Homo sapiens: one gene and its partners. The protein of the gene in region 1 purifies or fractionates together with the protein of each later gene. This does not show direct contact. Each region holds a gene or a part of one and is shown in the gene's direction. Other genes may lie near its edges.

Evidence for each region.
Region 2: the proteins of LUC7L (region 1) and PRRC2A purify together in Homo sapiens (affinity purification with mass spectrometry; 2 studies listed by BioGRID and IntAct, with this or other methods). This does not show direct contact.
Region 3: the proteins of LUC7L (region 1) and PPIG purify together in Homo sapiens (affinity purification with mass spectrometry; 3 studies listed by BioGRID and IntAct, with this or other methods). This does not show direct contact.

The regions. Positions count from the first base shown.
Region 1 is NC_000016.10:222,843-226,493, reverse strand, and holds part of LUC7L (putative RNA-binding protein Luc7-like 1), read left to right. Parts: intron 1-3,651. UniProt on the Homo sapiens protein: May bind to RNA via its Arg/Ser-rich domain.
Region 2 is NC_000006.12:31,623,669-31,627,319, forward strand, and holds part of PRRC2A (protein PRRC2A), read left to right. Parts: intron 1-63; coding exon 64-241; intron 242-592; coding exon 593-692; intron 693-781; coding exon 782-854; intron 855-1,502; coding exon 1,503-1,646; intron 1,647-1,791; coding exon 1,792-1,943; intron 1,944-2,123; coding exon 2,124-2,203; intron 2,204-2,351; coding exon 2,352-2,494; intron 2,495-3,103; coding exon 3,104-3,194; intron 3,195-3,313; coding exon 3,314-3,530; intron 3,531-3,651. UniProt on the Homo sapiens protein: May play a role in the regulation of pre-mRNA splicing.
Region 3 is NC_000002.12:169,629,200-169,632,850, forward strand, and holds part of PPIG (peptidyl-prolyl cis-trans isomerase G), read left to right. Parts: intron 1-1,574; coding exon 1,575-1,788; intron 1,789-2,399; coding exon of another isoform or gene 2,400-2,448; intron 2,449-2,566; coding exon 2,567-2,734; intron 2,735-3,651. UniProt on the Homo sapiens protein: PPIase that catalyzes the cis-trans isomerization of proline imidic peptide bonds in oligopeptides and may therefore assist protein folding. May be implicated in the folding, transport, and assembly of proteins.

The DNA.
Region 1 (3,651 bases):
CACTTCAGATGAACAAAACAGATAAACGCTAGCTTTGTATAATGTGCATTTATTCGAAGTAAGAATTTGAAAAGACTGAATAGTGGAAGGTTATCTGTGGTGATTACGCCACTGAGAGAAAAGGAGTCCTGTAGAGACCACCCCCATTTTAAGGTTTCACAGCTACCTCACGGAGGTTAAAAACTATCCTCTCATTTTAAGGATGAAATGTGCATATGTTAAAGGAAGTTTTCTTCATGATGAATCATTGCTTATATTAGGGAGGAGCACCTTCTGGAAAACCGCTCAGATGTATTAAAACTTCTCAAGCTGAGTTTTCTGACAGCAAATGCGAAATGAATGCCAAACCTTGTGCCTCTGTTCCTTGGGGTGTTGTCTGCTGTTTGGCCTGGGATGGGAAAACGTTACTGTTTGATGCAGATTGTTGTGTGTACCGAGGTCAATACAGATTAATGATTTCAACTCGTCAAAGGAAGTTTCACTGTAGGGTATTTTCATAGGATGCACAACTTGGAATTCTTGATAAACCCATAGTGAAGGAAGTCAGAGGGAGCAGATAGATGTGCACTCTCGGGAAGATTTCAACCATGTTTTCCTTGGCCAGACCCTGTGTAGCATAGCTGCAGAATACTGGTGAGAAAAATAATCTGAGTGAGAGTATTTCTTTTCTTTTCTTTTCTTTTCTTTTTTTTTTTGAGACAGAATTTCAGGCTGGGTGCGGTGGCTCACGCCTGTAATCCCAGTACTTTGGGAGGCCGAGGCGGGTGGATCACCTGAGGTTGGGAGTTGGCGACCAGCCTGATCAACATAGATAAACCCTGTCTCTATTAAAATACAAAATTAGCTGGGTGTGGTGGCGCATGCCTGTAATCCCAGCTACTCAGGAGACTGAGGCAGGAGAGTCACTTGAACCCGCGAGGCAGAGGTTGTGGTGAGCCGAGATCGAGCCATTGCACTCCAGCCTGGGCAACAAGAGCAAAACTCTGTCTCAAAAAAAAAAAAAAAAAGAGACGGAGTTTCGCTCTTGTTGCCCAGGCTGGAGTGCAGTGATGTGATCGTGGCTCACCGCAACCTCTGCCTCCCAGGTTCAAGCCATTCTCTTGCCTCAGCCTCCCGAGTAGCTGGGATTACAGGCATGCACCACCTCGCCCGGCTAACTTTTGTATTTTCAGTAGAGACGGGGTTTCACCATGTTGACCAGGCTAGTCTGGAGCTCCTGACCTCGTGATCCACCCACCTTGGCCTCCCAAAGTGCTGAGATTACAGGCATGAGACACTGCGCCCGGCCAGAACTGTGTTTTCTGAAGGTTCCGGAAACTTTGGTGCCCTTCCTGGTCAGTAGTGTTAGACCAGTAGAAGGTACAGAAGAGAACACAGGTTGTGGAGTAAAAAACGCCTGACACACTGGATTTAGCAGCCATGTGGAATATTGTGGAAGGACTTAATGAATGTGATATTTCAGCTCTGCTTGATGTTGGGCATCCAGGGGAATGGCCAGTAGTATTTTTCCCTGCCTCCTTGGCAAAGCTGAAAAGCTACATCCAAAGAGGGTAATCATAGAACCCAAGCCTATCCTCAGTGTGCTTAAGCAGGGACTCTTTTGGGAGCTCTCACATTGAAAAGTAAGTGCTGAATTTTGCTTCATGTGAGGTTTTTTTTTTTCAGACGGAGTCTCACTCTGTTGCCTAGGCTGGAGTGCATGGTGCTATCTCTGCTCACTGCAACCTCTGTCTCCTGGGTTCAAGCAACTCTCCTGCCTCAGCCTCCTGAGTAGCTGGGATTATAGGCGCCCGCCACCACACCTGGCTAATTTTTTTTGTATTTTTAGTAGAGATGGGGTTTCATCATGTTGGCCAGGCTGGTCTCAAACTCCTGACTTCAGGTGATCCACCCACCTCTGCCTCCCAAAGTGCTGGGATTACAGGCATGAGCCACCGCGCCTGGCCTCATGAGGTTTTCTTTTTTTTTTATTTTGAGACTGAGTTTCGCTCTTGTTGCCCAGGCTGGAATGTAATGGCTCCATCTCAGCTCACTGCAAGCTCCGCCTCCCGGGCTCAAGCAATTCTCCTGCCTCAGCCTCCCGAGTAGCTGGGATTACAAACGTGCGCTACCACACCCGGCTAATTTTTGTATTTTTAGTAGAGACGGGGTTTCACCACGTTGGCCAGGCTGGTCACGAACTTCTGACCTAAGGTGATCCGCCCTCCTCGGCCTCCCAAAGTGCTGGGATTATAGGCATGAGCCACCGCGCTCGGCCTCATGAGGTTTTCTAATGTCATATCTTTCTTGACAGTTGAGTTTTTTATAATGGAAATCAATTTGTACTTCATACTTTGTTGTACTTCAGGTTTTAGGGTCTGCTTCCTTTGGTAGTAGCTTTTTCTTTGAACAACAAAGCCTTGATTAGTTTAAAGCATTTTTTCTGATAGCTGCCATTCATTTTTCAGCTACAATGCTTAGTTTGTGGAAACTATATATTTTAAAGGACAACACCCACAACTTAGAAGAGTGAATGAGGCCAGGTGCGGTGGCTCATACCTGTAATCCCAGCACTTCGGGAGGAGGAGGAGGAGGCGGGTGGATCACTTGAGGTCAGGAGTTTGAGACCAGCCTGGCCAACATGATGAAAACCTGTCTCTACTAAAAATACAAAAATATTAGCCGGGCGTGGTGGCGTGCCCCTGTAGTCCCAGCTATTCGGGAGGCTGAGGCAGGAGGATTACTTGAATCTGGGAGGCAGAGGTTGCAGTGAGCTGAGATCGTGCCACTGCACTCCAGCCTGGGCGACAGAGTGAGACTCCGCCTCAAAAAAAAAAAAGAAAAAACAGAGTGAATGAGGTAAAAGTTGTCAGATTTTCAGTGACAGTGATTTTAAGTGCAAATTTGGCTTCTAGAACCACTATTGTCCTATCTCTAAGTCTTCTATGTAACCGACCATAACGTGAGTCCCATCTGACTTCAGAGTAAGAATGATAAAGGAGAAAAGTCAATCTTTCGTCAAAATAAACATCACCATACAAGGCAGACCCGTTGTCTGCCGCCTCCATGTTAGCTTTATTATTGGTGATACTGAAGGATGTTTTGTTAGTGAGTATGCCACGTGCTTTCTTTTTTTATCTATTATTTTATTTTATTTTATTTTTTTGAGACGGAGTCTCGCTCTGTCGCTCAGGCTGGAGTGCAGTGGTGCGATCTTGACTCACTGCAAGCTCTGCCTCTCTGGTTCATGCCATTCTCCTTCCTCAGCCTCCTGAGTAGCTGGGACTACAGGCGCCCAGCTAATTTTTTTTGTATTTTTAGTAGAGAAGGGGTTTCACTGTGTTGGCCAGGATGGTCTTGATCTCCTGACCTCGTGATCCGCCCGCCTCGGCCTCCCAAAGTGCTGGGATTACAGGAGTGAGCCACCGTGCCCAGCCTAGCATGCTACATGCTTTCTATGAGACTGCATCCCAAGAGTCAGACATGCAAGCCTCTCTATTTTTTTCCCCCTCAAGATGGATTAAAGGTTTAAAGCCTTCCTTTCTTTTTTTTTTTTTTTTTTTAAAAGACGGGGTCTCTTTAAAAAGCTGGGCGAGGTGGCTCACGCTCGTAATCCCAGCACTTTGAGAGGCCAAGGTGGGTGGATCACCTGAGGTCAGCAGTTCGAGACCA
Region 2 (3,651 bases), on another chromosome or scaffold:
ATAGGAGGCCATCAGATCTCCCACATGAGGCATTTTCGACCCTCTCTCCGTCTTGTTCTCCAGTTGCCCCTCGCCATGGCCTGCAGAGTCTCGGGAAAGTTGCCATTGCCCGGCGTATGCCACCTCCAGCCAACCTTCCAAGCCTGAAAGCCGAGAACAAAGGCAATGACCCCAATGTCTCACTAGTGCCAAAAGACGGAACAGGATGGGCAAGCAAACAGGAGCAGTCCGACCCCAAGAGGTAGACAGAGGCTTGGGGGACCTAGAGTGATGGGTATTTTAACTTGAACTTCAGGGAGCATTGGGGCTTGGTTTAGTCCAGCCACGTCTGAGCCAGAGACGAAGAGGTCCCTTTCTTACCTATTGCAGGTTCCTTGTTAAATGACTAAGGAATGGTACTAAACTTTAGCTTTTTGTCTTGGAGAGAGAGCATGAAAAAATAGACAACAGCCTACAAAGGATGACAAAATTAATTTGTCCTTATATTTGTAAATGGTAGCAATGGGCATGATTTCAGTCCTGAGTCTCCACCAGTTGGAGAAGTCAGGGAGGCATCTCAGGTGTGAATAACCTTCCCATTCTGTCCCCTCAGTTCCGATGCCTCAACCGCTCAGCCGCCGGAATCGCAGCCACTGCCGGCTTCACAGACGCCTGCCTCCAACCAGCCGAAACGACCCCCAGCAGCCCCCGAGGTACCTGGAGAACTGGAGGGGTGGGGAGGAAGAATGGTTCATAGCTGCCCCACCCACATCATTTATCATCTTTCTGAACACTTCCCCAGAACACTCCTTTGGTTCCAAGCGGGGTAAAGTCCTGGGCACAAGCCAGCGTCACCCATGGAGCACATGGAGATGGTGAGTGCAGCACTTAATTGGGGAGCTGTGTCTGGGCACCATGGGATGCATGAACCCTGCACTGTATTTTCAGCCAAGTGACCTTGGTCCTCTTTGGCTAAATCAAGGACCACCCATATTCAGTTTCATGGAGGCACATGAGCAAGTTTAAGTCTCAGTCTTATATGATGGAGTGTAGTGGTGCCAGAACTGACCTCCTTGGGGAATAAGCAGTTATTCTGTAGGGGGGTGAGTTTGAAGGCGGGAAACCTGATGGTCTGGTACCTGTCAGAGCCTTCCACTTTTTTTTTTTTTGAGACGGAGTCTCATTCTGTCACCCAGGCTGGAGTGCAGTGGCGCAATCTCGGCTCACTGCAACCTCTGCCTCCTGGGTTCAAGCGATTTTCCTGCCTCAGCCTCCAGAGTAGCGGGACTACAGGCACACGCCAACACACCCAGCTAATTTTTTGTGTGTTTTTAGTAGAGATGGGGTTTCACATGTTGGCCAGGATGGTCTCGATCTCTTGACCTCGTGATCCGCCCGCCTCAGCCTCCCAGAGTGCTGGGATTACAGGCGTGAGCCACCGCGCCCAGCCAGAGTCTTCCACTTTTATAGCATGTCCTCAGGAAATGTCTTCTGTCTCCTGTTCTGCATCCCCATCCTAATAGGTGGAAGGGCATCAAGCCTACTGTCACGATTCTCTCGAGAGGAATTTCCGACCCTGCAGGCGGCTGGCGACCAGGACAAGGCTGCCAAGGAAAGGGAGTCTGCCGAACAGTCGTCTGGGCCCGGACCAAGCCTCCGCCCCCAAAGTGAGTGGCTGCCTTTTGGCCAAGACATTACCTATTGCATCTCAGAGCTAGGTGCTGGCTTATTCACCTTCCTCCCCATCACTTTCAGCTGTGTTCACTTGTCCTCCAATCATTGATACCTCTCTCTACCTTTTCCAAAATACAGATTCTACAACTTGGAGGGACGGAGGTGGGCGTGGCCCTGATGAGCTGGAGGGCCCGGACTCCAAACTTCATCATGGTCATGATCCCCGGGGTGGGCTACAGCCTTCAGGCCCACCCCAGTTCCCTCCCTACCGCGGAATGATGCCGCCTTTCGTGAGTCTTGGTGTCTTGTCTTGGAACGATTACACTGGAAGCTGGAGAGCTAGGAATCAGGACTTAGTCTTTGACCTATGAGATAGAAGGGAGGGTGGGAGGATGATTGATAGCAGGCTTAAGGAGCTAGAAGGGTATATGACTGTCCCTCTGAGCAGCTACTGTTGGACCCTTTTACAGATGTATCCCCCATATCTCCCGTTCCCTCCGCCCTATGGACCCCAGGGGCCTTACCGATACCCCACTCCTGATGGGCCCAGGTGAGCAATCCAGGTCTGGGTTTGTGGCTGGGGGCAGGGGAAGCTTATTGGGGGAGGAGATGGTTTTCTAGCCAGGAGGCTCAGTCTAGGATCAGTCTCGCATGTGGTTATACAACATGCCATATTTCATTTTCTTTTTTGTGTACAGCCGTTTTCCCCGTGTGGCGGGCCCCCGAGGCTCAGGGCCACCAATGCGCTTAGTAGAGCCTGTGGGTCGTCCCTCTATTCTCAAAGAGGATAATCTCAAAGAGTTTGATCAGTTGGATCAGGAGAATGATGATGGTTGGGCAGGTAAGTGGATATTAAGGGTCAAGAATTTGGATCTTGAAAGGCAAAACCTAATGAGGAAAAAAAAATACAGGGTTATGTGGGTGAAAGGCAGACATTGAAGTGTAGGAAGACCAGGCCCAATGGCTCACATCTGTAATCCCAGTGCTTTGGGAGTGTTAGGTGAGAGGATCGCTTGAAGCCAGGAGTTCAAGACCAGCCTGGGCAACACAGCAAGACCCCCCACCTCTACAAAAAAAAAAAAATTTTTTAGTTGGGTGTGGACTGTGCATCTGTGGTCCCAGCTACTCTGGAGGTTGTGGTGGGAGGATCAGTTGAGCCCAGGAGTTGGAGGTCACAGTGAGCTATGATCGTGCCACTGAACTCCATCCTGGGCAACAGAGCGAGACTTTTAAAAGGAAAAAAAAAAAAGAGTAGGGGAGGATGGATGGGGAATACCAAGTCCTTGCAAAGTGGTGAGAGGAGTAAGAATGACAAGACTTCATTGGTGGATCTAGACTTCGGAGGGAAGGATATTGGCATTGGTAGTCCATCTTGTTACATAGTTCCAGACTACCTCCCAAGATTGGAGGGCAGAATGCTTGGGTTACTAATACTCATATTTCCCCTCAGGGGCCCATGAAGAGGTTGACTACACTGAAAAGCTCAAGTTCAGCGATGAGGAAGATGGGCGAGACTCTGATGAGGAGGGTGCTGAGGGCCAGTGAGTTAGGGCCATCAGGGGAGAAGAGGAGGGGGTCTTGGTTTGTATTTTGGTAATATACTCTTAGAGGAGTATATTAGTTGCAGCTGATTTTAATTTCACTGTTGATCTGCTCACAGCAGGGATTCCCAATCAGCTTCTGGTGAGGAACGGCCCCCTGAAGCAGATGGCAAAAAGGGCAACTCCCCCAACAGCGAACCGCCCACTCCTAAGACGGCCTGGGCAGAAACCTCTCGGCCTCCAGAGACAGAGCCGGGACCTCCTGCCCCAAAGCCTCCCCTACCCCCACCTCACCGGGGCCCCGCCGGGAACTGGGGCCCCCCTGGGGACTACCCAGTGAGTGTCTCCAATAAGGGATTGAGAGGGTCAGCTGTGGGAAATTGGTGTCAGCTGAGTAATTGAAGCGGTTGTGATATAGAGGAAGGGGGGTGCTAAAAATGGGCTGTGTGAAGTGCCA
Region 3 (3,651 bases), on another chromosome or scaffold:
CTTCAGGAGTTTATTTATGGCCAATCTTGTTTTACCCATCACTAGCCACTTTTCCCTTTCCTATTATTTTGAAACAAATTCCAGGCATAATATTTTATCAATAAATGTTATTTCTAAAAGATGATTCTTAAAAACAGTACCATAATGATACACACATACACATTCCTAAATACTAAAAATCCTGACAGTGTTCAGATTGTAATTGTTTCATTAATGTTAATTAATTTTTTGCTGTGTGAATCAATCCAAATGAAGTTCAGACATTGAAATTGGTCTTGTAAGTTGTGTTTTGTTTCTTAATAAATTCCCTCACCATCTTGTTTTATGTTTCCTTGAAATGTATTTCTCAGAAAAGGTAGGTCATTTGTCATGTAGCATTTTCTATAATTGAACATACTGGATTTTACTAATTGAGTCCTTACTGTGTTATGTAATGTTGATCAGATGCAGTTGTGACTTGAAATTCCTTTTAATGAAAACAGGAGTCACACAGGACAAGTTGTCTCTGTGTTTTGCAGCAGCCATGGGTTATCAGTGCCTCACAAGAAGTTGTAAAACGATATTTTAACACTATAATTTCTTTTTCATTTATTCCTGGAATGCTTCTGACAAAGAGCTATTTCCCTTCATTCATTTCATTAGCCAGTGGTGCAGTTTGTACCACAAAGGCAAGATAAATGCTTTATACTTTATGAGTATCACTGTGAACTAATGTATTTCTAATATAATCTGATATATCTCAATTTATTGTAGTTCTCATGTATATATCAATATTGTCCCATCTTTGGCCCCAGTTAGCCTCTTCAAATCCACCATGATTTGAATGAGTATACCTTTAGATGGGTCAAGCTCCTCCCAATTTGTAGTATCTTCTTCTAATTCTTGTTATGTTACACCTTCTAGCTTCACTTATTTATATTAATTGATCCTTTAAACTCTGAGTTTTTTTTTTTTTACCCTTTTTAAAGTTACTGCTTCCTTAACTGAAATAAAATTTCAATTTAAAATGACTTTTTGTAGAGTCCCCAAAACATTCTATTCATCATGGGCAATTGACTTCCCTCTGTTATGAGTCTCCTCTTGAGCTAAATTTCTTAATTATTAGAAGACTGCTTGGGCACTGAAATATAAGCCCATGCCAGTGAAATCCATTTCTTATCTCTCCATGTTGCTGTAAAGCAGTTTTTCTGTTATTTCCCTGCACTAGTTCTGCCAATCTTGATAATAAGAGGGAAAGTGGAAAACTACAAGATTAGAACATGGGACTCTTCATTGTTATTCTGTGCTTTTAAAAAAAATTCTTATTCAGATGTTTGTTAACATTAGTTTAGCATTTTAGACTCACCTATTTTTTAAAGTTCTTTGGATTAATAGATAAAACTTTGACCAGTGAATTCTGGAGATCTGGACTCTAATCCTGAGTCTTGACTCCTTTCCTGTACTTCCCAGTTCACATAGCTGGATGATCTAAGTGCTAAATACTGAACTTAGTGAGAATCTGCAGAAAATTTAAATCTCCTTCCACAAAGTTTGTCTAAAAATTGTTGATCAAAACCTTTTTGTTTTTATTAAAGTTAAGAAAGAAGAAAAGAAAAGGCATAAATCATCATCATCTTCCTCCTCCTCATCTAGTGACTCAGATAGCTCAAGTGATTCTCAGTCCTCTTCTGATTCCTCTGATTCCGAAAGTGCTACTGAAGAGAAATCAAAGAAAAGAAAAAAGAAACATCGGAAAAATTCCCGAAAACACAAGAAAGAAAAGAAAAAGCGAAAGAAAAGCAAGAAGAGGTCTTAATTTTACTTTTCTAATGCTAGCTTTATATTCTGATTTCCTTTCTGTAAATCTGTTAGGATTTTGGGTCAATTATATGAAACTGTTAAAATAGTGAGAAATATAGCATGGAGCGTAGGACTTTTGATATTCCACAGTCTATAGATTAAATTTTGGGTACGTTCATTTTCTTTTGAAAGAAAACCTATCAGTTCATTTTTTTGTGTACTCAATGAAATAATACAGCTTTGGTGTTACAGATTTGTGTGTTTTATAGGAGGATTATGGGATTTATGAAAATTGCAGAAAACCACCAGTTGTTTTTCCTATTTTCAGTAGCAGTCCCCTTTGCTCTTACGATAGCATAAGGATAGAAAGCAGATAATGTCAGTGTATTTTACTTTCTTTTCCATTTTGCTTGAAATAATCTGTGTTTGTACTAAAACTTGTCTTCATCTGCCTATGGCTCAAATGCAGTTAATTTCTTTACCCATGTTTTAAAGTATTTTAAATTTATCAGAGTGCATTGCTCACATAGTTTCATATTTTTTATCCATTTTGTAGGAAAATATTTTTTGAGAGTGTGATAATCGAAACGTTTTGTTTTGTTTGTTTTTTGATTGGTTAGTTGGTTTGTCAGAGGAATAGAAGATTTTTCCCATGCGATCACATCTTTGGTAAGGACAGGATGTTTATATTATAGTGATATAAAGGAAAGAAATACCAACAATTGGATACTTCCGTAAGGACATAATAACCAACTGTAACTTGTTTTGTGTGTTTCTGTCTGTTAAGTGCATCTAGTGAGAGTGAAGCTGAAAATCTTGAAGCACAACCCCAGTCTACTGTCCGTCCAGAAGAGATCCCTCCTATACCTGAAAATAGATTCCTAATGAGAAAAAGTCCTCCTAAAGCTGATGAGAAGGAAAGGAAAAACAGAGAGAGAGAAAGGGAAAGAGAGTGGTATGTGAATATGTATATTTTGCCTTACATGGTTTACCATAGAACTTTTCTTTTTAAAAAGTTATTTATTTTAAACAAGATTTAATTGGTGACCTTGTCCCAAGATTGAAATCTTTTTTATAAAATGTTCTTCCGCAAAGTTCTTTTTTGCCAACCACATAACTAGAAAGGGAAATTGACTTAAATTACAAGTAGGTTCTGAAGTAAAGTTACACATAATAAACACTAATACAAAAAAGAGATGTTAAGCAGCATTCCAAGCCAATAACAAGATACTCTTTAACCAGTAAAACAAGATAGTGTTTTATAGTGTTATTTGTGTACAGTAAACTCTTAAGCAAGTAAGAATCTTGGTTTTTCAGTTTGTCTAATAGGAAAAACTGCTGTTTTCCTTACTTGGTTTACAACATTGTAATAAAAATTGATGTCATGTTCAAATCCTGAAAAAAGTTTACTACATAAATCTACATTATTAATATCTGTAATGCTAATGGTTCTTTATCAGTCATTTTAATAACTATGTCCAGGCTGGGCGCAGTGGCTCACGCCTGTAATCCCAGCACTTTGGGAGGCTGAGGCGGGCAGATCACGAGGTCAGGAGATGGAGACCATCCTGGCTAACATGGTGAAACCCCATCTCTACTAAAAATACAAAAAATTAGCCGGGTGTGGTGGCGGGTGCCTGTAGTCCCAGCTACTCAGGAGGCTGAGGCAGGAGAATGGCATAAGTAAACCTGGGAGGCGGAGCTTGCAGTGAGCCGAGATCACGGCACTGCACTCCAGCCTGGGTGACAGAGTGAGACTCCGTCTCAAAAATAATAATAATAATAATAACTATGTCCAAAAGTAGAAAAAGGAATATTGAAATATTTTTCTTAGTTATGATCAGAAATACATTGTCATAATACAAGTAATAA